3 separate regions of the Homo sapiens genome follow, and all the other regions are linked to region 1. Evidence: fine-mapped expression QTL. A gene starts in region 1. Each other region holds a variant in brackets. All regions are shown on one strand. Distances are from middle to middle. Region 1 holds the start of CSNK1G3 (casein kinase 1 gamma 3). Region 2 has its middle 36 kb from the start of CEP120. Region 3 has its middle 2.5 kb from the start of CEP120.

What was found. PIP is the estimated chance that this variant, and not a neighbour inherited with it, causes the effect.
Region 2: its variant is fine-mapped to the expression of CSNK1G3 in whole blood (INTERVAL, PIP 0.95).
Region 3: its variant is fine-mapped to the expression of CSNK1G3 in whole blood (INTERVAL, PIP 0.99).

Annotation. Positions count from the first base shown.
Region 1 is chr5:123,511,217-123,513,716 of GRCh38, forward strand. CSNK1G3 (casein kinase 1 gamma 3) reads left to right here and starts at 961. Exons shown (of 14, transcript NM_001364140.2): 1 at 961-1,354. RefSeq lists enhancers at 673-732, 893-1,102, 2,133-2,282 and silencers at 1,283-1,372, 1,543-1,612.
Region 2 is chr5:123,457,585-123,460,440 of GRCh38, forward strand. No RefSeq gene overlaps it. Among named protein-coding and RNA genes, the nearest start is that of CEP120, 36 kb to the left of the region's middle. The variant G/T (reference allele first, on the strand shown) is at 1,785.
Region 3 is chr5:123,424,697-123,427,196 of GRCh38, forward strand. No RefSeq gene overlaps it. Among named protein-coding and RNA genes, the nearest start is that of CEP120, 2.5 kb to the left of the region's middle. The variant C/G (reference allele first, on the strand shown) is at 1,272.

The DNA of each region.
Region 1 (2,500 bases):
TGATAAAATGAACATTTAAAAAACATGGCACCAGGCTGATTCTTCTTCCTGCACACCTTAATGCCTAACTTTTGAAAGGACTTGAGACATAAGAATCACAATTTTAAAAAATTATAGTTTCCATGCCTTCATGGTGGATCAATTTCCATAGAAGTCTACCAAAATGACTTATCTCCATCCCAGGGAAGCAACTGCAAGAGGGAAAATGAAAGGAATGCAGTCTTTCTATGTAGGCAGAGTGGACTTAAGTGTGAGTCAGAAACACCGATTTCAGTTTGTGCGCTGCAACTTGATAACTTGGGTGATGTTTGGCTTCTCAGAACTTTGGGAGGTGAATTTGAAAAACAGGTAATGCCACACTATATAGTTCAGAGGATTACCTCAGCTTACAAACAGCAAATGAGACGCAAATGTGAGCCATAATTCACATTTCTAAGCAGTTGGAGCCCTGATATGGCACTGGGGTTACAAACAAGCGGGGAAAAATGTCAACCCAGTGATGTCATACTCCTAGGCCGGGCCCTAAGATTTTTTTGGAACCTGGCGGGCTGAGCACAACAGGGAAAGCCTCAGCACCCTGACTTGGCACAATGGTACCCTTAAGGCTCTTTGCTCACTCAGTTCTTAGTAGCTCTCCTAAAGCATGGTGGTGTTCTCTTCCAGTTCTCTGCGTAGACTTTGCTATGCTTCTCCGCCCACTGCTTCATCCAGAGAAACACTCGTATCCACAGCCTCTCCCCACTTTCCCTCACGCACGGCTCTAGAAAGACGGGGATAGGGCGCGGCTTAGGCTTTATACACCTTGCCAGCCAATGACCGCGCCGTCTCCTTTCCGGTCGGCGATCCGACCAATCCAAGAAGGTTGGTGCAATCTTCGGCTCTACTCGGCTGTTTTCGCTGATGCGGGCAGCTTGGGGGCCGCCGCCGCTAAACAGACGCTTTCCTTTTTAATTTTTTTTCCATGTGTTCACTTCCGGGTCCGGCGTCGATCCGGATGCCCGAGGCAGAAGGATGTTTGACCTCCGGATAAGCGAGGCGCTGCTGTGCATTCATTCCGGGCTGCATCGGTGGCGACAGCAGAGGCTCGGGCGGCGACTCTCCGGCCAGCGGCGGCGGTAGGAGGCACCAGCGGCAGTGCAGGGACCGAATCCGAGCAGCGCTGCGTTACCTCTCTCTCTCGCTCCTTCCCCCCTACCTCGCTCGCTCGCTCGCTCGCTCCCTGCGTGGCTCGCTTTCCTCCTCCGGCCGCCGGCGGGTGTGATGTGCCGCCGCCGCTGCCCCCGCCGGCGCTGACGGACTGGGGGCGCCGCCCGCGCCCGGGACCGACCCCTCTGCTCGCGGCCGCGCCTTTGAGGTAAAGCCCCCTGCGCGTAGGTGCTCCGCTGCCAGCCCCGGCCCGGCGGCTGCCTCGGCGCGGCCGCGGCGCCCTCCCTCCCGGGTGGGGCTGGGGTCCCGGGCGGGTGGGGTGGGGTGCGGCGGGGGCGGCGCCGCAGGCGCGGGTGTCGGGGGAGGGGTGGGCGAGGACCATGGCGGGTGGCCCGGAGGCGTGGGCAGGAGGGGGCCGCGGTCGGAGGCTGAGGGCGCGGAGGGCTAGGGGGCAGCGGGGGCCGCGGGTGGCGGGTCGGGCTGGGTGCAAAAGTTGCCGGAGTGGTGCGGCGCGACTGGGGCGGCGAGGGAGGTGGGCCAACTGGGCCGGCGGGGGCTTCCTTAGGAGAGATTGGGAGGTGGGGAGTGTCGCCCACGGTGCTCCTTGACTGTGTCCAGACAATTACCTTTGGAGTAGGGGCTTCAGGCAGGAAGGAGGCATGGATAGGCTGGGAGGAGGCGACGGGGGCCAGCGTTCAGCTCAGGGATAAACTTCCCGTTGGAGTGTTTAAGGGGTTGGGTGGGGGGACACAGGGATTTACCTGTTTCTTAGAGCTTTGACTCAGCTCAAAACTTAACCAAGACATTAGTCAAAGGTTAGCAAAATCACTCTGATGGTTACTCTCATGGTGCCGGTTTGTTTGTTTATCCCACATGCAGGGGAAGTGACACTGAGAAGCATCGGGTCTCTTGGTCCACAGCCTCCACATTTCTTTTCAGCAGGATGAGGAGGGAGATGTGTGTCTACTCGTGGGGTGGGGGTAGTGAGGCCTGTGTCATGGTCATTCCCCTTCTCCCACCTCATGTTTTAGGGAGGAAAAGTTCAGATGGGGGAGAGAGTGAGTGTGCCTGTGTGTGTGGGAGACAGCTACTGTTGATACACTGTGTGAATTACTTTCAACTCTTTTGTAGTAAGCACCCAGGCTGGTCAGTGGCTCCTTTTAAATCTTCTATTAAAATATTTACTTTAAATTAGAGAATTAAAAATGTACTTATTTTTAATGAATTAAGAAAATAAGTCATTATTTTACTTTTTGCAATTACTTAGTCCGATTCAAATGACATTTGGCCACAGATATGAGAGATGGCAAACTATATCTAAGATGGGATATAAAATGAAAAGTATATACTTTTT
Region 2 (2,856 bases), 53 kb before region 1:
ACATGATTGTATATCTAGAAAACCTCATCGTCTCAGCCCAAAATCTCCTTAAGCTGATAAGCAACTTCAGCAAAGTCTCAGGATACACAATCAATGTGCAAAAATCACAAGCATTCTTATACACCAATAACAGATAAACAGAGAGCCAAATCATGAGTGAAGTCCCATTCACAATTGCTTCAAAGAGAATAAAATACCTAGGAATCCAACTTACAAGGGACATGAAGGACCTCTTCAAGGAGAACTACAAACCACTGCTCAATGAAATAAAAGAGGATACAAACAAATGGAAGAACATTCCATGCTCATGGGTAGGAAGAATCAATATCATAAAAATGGCCATACTGTCCAAGGTAATTTATAGATTCAATGCCATCCCCATCAAGCTACCAATGACTTTCTTCACAGAATTGGAAAAAACTACTTTAAAGTTCATATGGAACCAAAAAAGAGCCCGCATCACCAAGTCAATCCTAAGCCAAAAGAACAAAGCTGGAGGCATCACATTACCTGACTTCAAACTATACTACAAGGCTACAGTAACCAAAACAGCATGGTACTGGTACCAAAACAGAAATATAGATCAATGGAACAGAACAGAGCCCTCAGAAATAACACCACGTATCTACAGCTATCTGATCTTTGACAAACCTGAGAAAAAGAAGCAATGGGGAAAGCATTCCCTATTTAATAAATGGTGCTGAGAAAACTGGCTAGCCTTATGTAGAAAGCTGAAATGATCCCTTCCTTACACTTTATACAAAAATTAATTCAAGATGGATTAAAGACTTAAATGTTAGACCTAAAACCATAAAAACCCTAGAAGAAAACCTAGGCATTACCATTCAGGACACAGGCATGGGCAAGGACTTCATGTCTAAAACACCAAAAGCAATGGCAACAAAAGCCAAAATTGACAAATGGGATCTAATTAAATTAAAGAGCTTCTGCACAGCAAAAGAAACTACCATCAGAGTGAACAGGCAACCTACAGAATGGGAGAAAATTTTTGCAACCTACTCATCTGACAAAGGGCTAATATCCAGAATCTACAATGAACTCAAACAAATTTACAAGAAAAAAACAAACAACCCCATCAACAAGTGGGAGAAGGACACGAACAGATACTTCTCAAAAGAAGACATTTATGCAGTCAAAAAACACATAAAAAAATGCTCACCATCACTGGCCATCAGAGAAATGCAAATCAAAACCACAATGAGATACCATCTCATACCAGTTAGAATGGCAATCATTAAAAAGTCAGGAAACAACAGGTGCTGGAGAGGATGTGGAGAAATAGGGACACTTTTACACTGTTGGTGGGACTGTAAACTAGTTCAACCATTGTGGAAGTCAGTGTGGTGATTCCTCAGGGATCTAGAACTAGAAATACCATTTGACCCAGCCATCCCATTACTGGGTATATACCCAAAGGATTATAAATCATGCTGCTATAAAGACACATGCACACGTATGTATACTGCGGCACTATTCACAATAGCAAAGACTTGGAACCAACCCAAATGTCCAACAATGATACACTGGATTAAGAAAATGTGGCACATATACACCATGGAATACTATGCAGCCATAAAAAAGGATGAGTTCATGTCCTTTGTAGGGACATGGATGAAATTGGAAATCATCACTCTCAGTAAACTGTCGCAAGGACAAAAAACCAAACACCGCATGTTCTCACTCATAGGTGGAAATTGAACAATGAGAACACATGGACACAGGAAGGGGAACATCACACTCTGGGGACTGTTGTGGGGTGGGGG[G/T]AGGGGGGAGGGATAGCATTAGGAGATATACCTAATGCTAAATGACGAGTTAATGGGTGCAGCACACCAGCATGGCACATGTATACATATGTAACTAACCTGCACATTGTGCACATGTACCCTAAAACTTAAAGTATAATAATAATAAAATAAAATAAAATAAAAGAAGAAAAATAAATTTGGTTGAATTTGTTTTATTTCTTAATTAATTTGACACGTATTTGTTGAATATTTATTCTGTGCTACATACATGGGGGTAAAATAATAATCTGAAATTCCTCTAAGAATTTGTAATTCAATAATGAATAGTAATTATTGTGAATTCTGCCTCCAACCTCTTTCTATACCCTTCAATAACTCTATGTAACCATCATCTAAGGCCACTACAACTAGTGCTTAAAATCTTTATCATAGCTTGGCCGGGCGCGGTGGCTCACGCCTGTAATCCCATCACTTTGGGAGGCCGAGGTGGGCAGATCACGAGGTCAGGAGTTCAAGACCAGCCTGGCTAACATGGTGAAACCCCATCTCTACTAAAAATACAAAAATTAGCCGGGTGTGGTGGCACCTGCCTGTAATCCCAGCTACTTGGGAGGCTGAGGCAGGAGAATCGCTTGAACCCAGGAGGCGGAGGTTGCAGTGAGCCGAGACCGTGCCACTGCACTCCAGCCTGGCAACAGAGCAAGACTCCATCTCAAAAAAAAAAAAAAAAATCTTTATCATAGCCTATCTGGATCACTGTAATTGCTCCAGACCTGATCATGCCATTTCCCTGCTTAAACTCTGTACTGCCTTGTCACTGGCCTCAAAACTCTGTGATTAATTAGGTCTCAATTTACCTCTCTAGATTTATCTATCACCACTCATACCTCAAAATCTATCACTTTAGATTAAATTCTTTTCCATTTTCCATCTTGCTATACTCCTTCTTACTTTTGGGGTTTGCACATGACACTCCCTCTGCTTGAATCATATTCTCCACCCCAATCCTCTTCTATCTTTGCCTGTTTACTTCTTACAAGCCCTTCAGGTCTCCTATTATGCGTCACTGCAGGAAGCTTTCCTTGACCTT
Region 3 (2,500 bases), 87 kb before region 1:
CAGAATGATATAATGAACCCCCAGTTACCCAGACCCCAGCTTCAACGATTATCAACTTAAGACCAATCATCTTCATCTGTTGTGTTATTTTTAAAGAAATCCCCAACATCACATCAATTCATCTTTTTGGATACGTACTTCTAAAAGATGAAGACTTTTTGGCCAGGTGTGGTAGTGGCTCACATCTGTAATCCCAGCACTTTGGGAGGCTGAGGTGGGCGGATCACTTGAGTCAGGAGTTCGAGACCAACCTGGCCAACATAGCAGAACTCCGTCTCTACTAAAAATACAAAAATTAGCCAGACGTGGTAGCGCAAGCCAGAAATCCCAGCTACTTGGGAGGCTGAAGCACGAGAAGGCTGAGGCACGAGAATCGCTTGAAATCATGAGGCAGAGGTTGCAGTGAGCCGGTATCATGCCACAGCGCTCCAGCCTGGGCCACAGAGAAAGACTCAGTCTCAAAAAAAAAAAAAAAAAAAAAGATAACGACTTCTTAAAGAATCTTAAAATATTAAGTATTTAACCACAATCCCATTATTACACTTAATAATTAACAAAAATTTCTTAATCCCATTAAATATATACTGTTCAAATTTCTCTGATTGTCTAATAATTTGTTTGCAGTCGGTTTTTTCAAATCAGGATCCAAACAAGTTCCAAAATACAATGGTTGGTATGTCTCTTGTCTTTTTTAATGTATATGGTTAGGCTTTGTGCCCCCACCAAAATCTCATTTTGAATTGTAATCCCCACAACCCCCAAGTGTCAAGGAAGGGACCAGATGGAGGTAATTGAATCATGGGGGTGGTTTCCTCCATGCTATTCTCCTGATAGTCAGTGAGTTCTCAGGAGATCTGACGGTTTTATTAAGCGCTCTTCCCCCTTTACTCACTCACTCTTCTCCTTCTTGCTGCCTTGTGAGGAAGGTGCCTTGCTTCCCCTTTGCCTTCTGCCATGACCATAAGTTTCCTGAGGCCTCCCTAGCCATGCTGAACTATGAGTCAATTAAACCTCTTTCCTTTTGAAATTACCCAGTCTTGGGCAGTTCTTTATAGTAGTATGAAAACGGACTAATGGAGGTACCCAATCCTTCTTTTTTTTTTCTTGAAATTCTTTATTGAAGAAACTGGTCGTGTCTGCAGAGTTTACCACAGTCTGAATTTTGTTGGTATAATACCAATGTTGTGGTTTAACATATCCTCTGTTGAGAAGTCTAATAAATATGTACACATTAACAACACTTAAAGATTAGGAAACAAATTAACCACAAG[C/G]GAAGTATAATGTTATCAGTGGTGCAAGACAGTACTTAGCATTATAGACAAAGAGAGGCCCAAGTACCTCTGATGGAATGAGTACCCCAGAAGATCAGAGTTTGGGACCTACCTTTGCTATTTGCATGTCAGGTGACCTTAAGCAAATCACTTTCCCTCTTTGAGCCTCAGTTTCAGCTATAAAACGATAGTATGCATGGTTCTTTAGTGCAGGACTTAAATGTAGTAAATGCCACTTAGTTACTATTTTTTATATGAACAATCTCAGACTTTAAGTAGTAGCTGTGAAAAGAGCCAGGAACTGTCCATCAGCATACCTTGTTGTTTTGCTTTAGGATATCTAGCAGGGCTTCACACCTAGATTATAAACCATTACTGTATGCCATAGAATAGTTTTAGGTCATAAAAAATCTGACAGATTATTAAAATTAACAAAGAAACTTTTTCATGTAGTAAATTTCACATGATTCCCTTTATTTGGATTTTCCTCCTGAACAACATCATTTCTAAAATCACTTTCAGCACAGCTACTGAAAAGTCACCAATTTAGTTGGCCTGGTGCTTCCTCTAACAGAATGTACAAAATCAATGATATGAAATTCCTCATCTAGAAATGGAATTATAATCCTATCATCATCTATATCTGTTTTTCTATAATCTAATTTCCTTTCATATGTGATATTAAACAGTAGTAACTTCAGTTCTAGTATAAATCATCACATTTAAGCTTAAATTTATGAGGGAAAATCTTGTTGTAAGTTAATAAAGTACCAATTACTGTTTCAAAATATGTAAGTAAATGCTAGTAACATGTAATTTTTATCTATAAGACAATATGAGATTCATTACACTATAAGCTTATAAATTTAAACTGACAGGTTTTTTATTTTATTTATTTATTTTTTGAGATGGAGTCTTGCTCTGTCACCCACGCTGGAGTGCAGTGGTACGATCTTGGCTCACAGCTCACTGCAACCTCCGCCTCCCAGGTTCAAGTGATTCTCCTGCCTCAACCTCCTGAGTAGCTGGGATTACAGGTGCACACCACTACACCCAGCTCATTTTTATATTTTTAGTAGAGATGAAGTTTCACCGTGTTGTCCAGGCTGGTTTCGAACTCCTGACCTCAGGTGATTCACCCGCTTTGGTCTCCCAAAGTGTTGGGATTACAGGTGTGAGCCACCACGCCTGGGTGAAACTGACAGAATTGATGAAAGGCTTGATTCTGA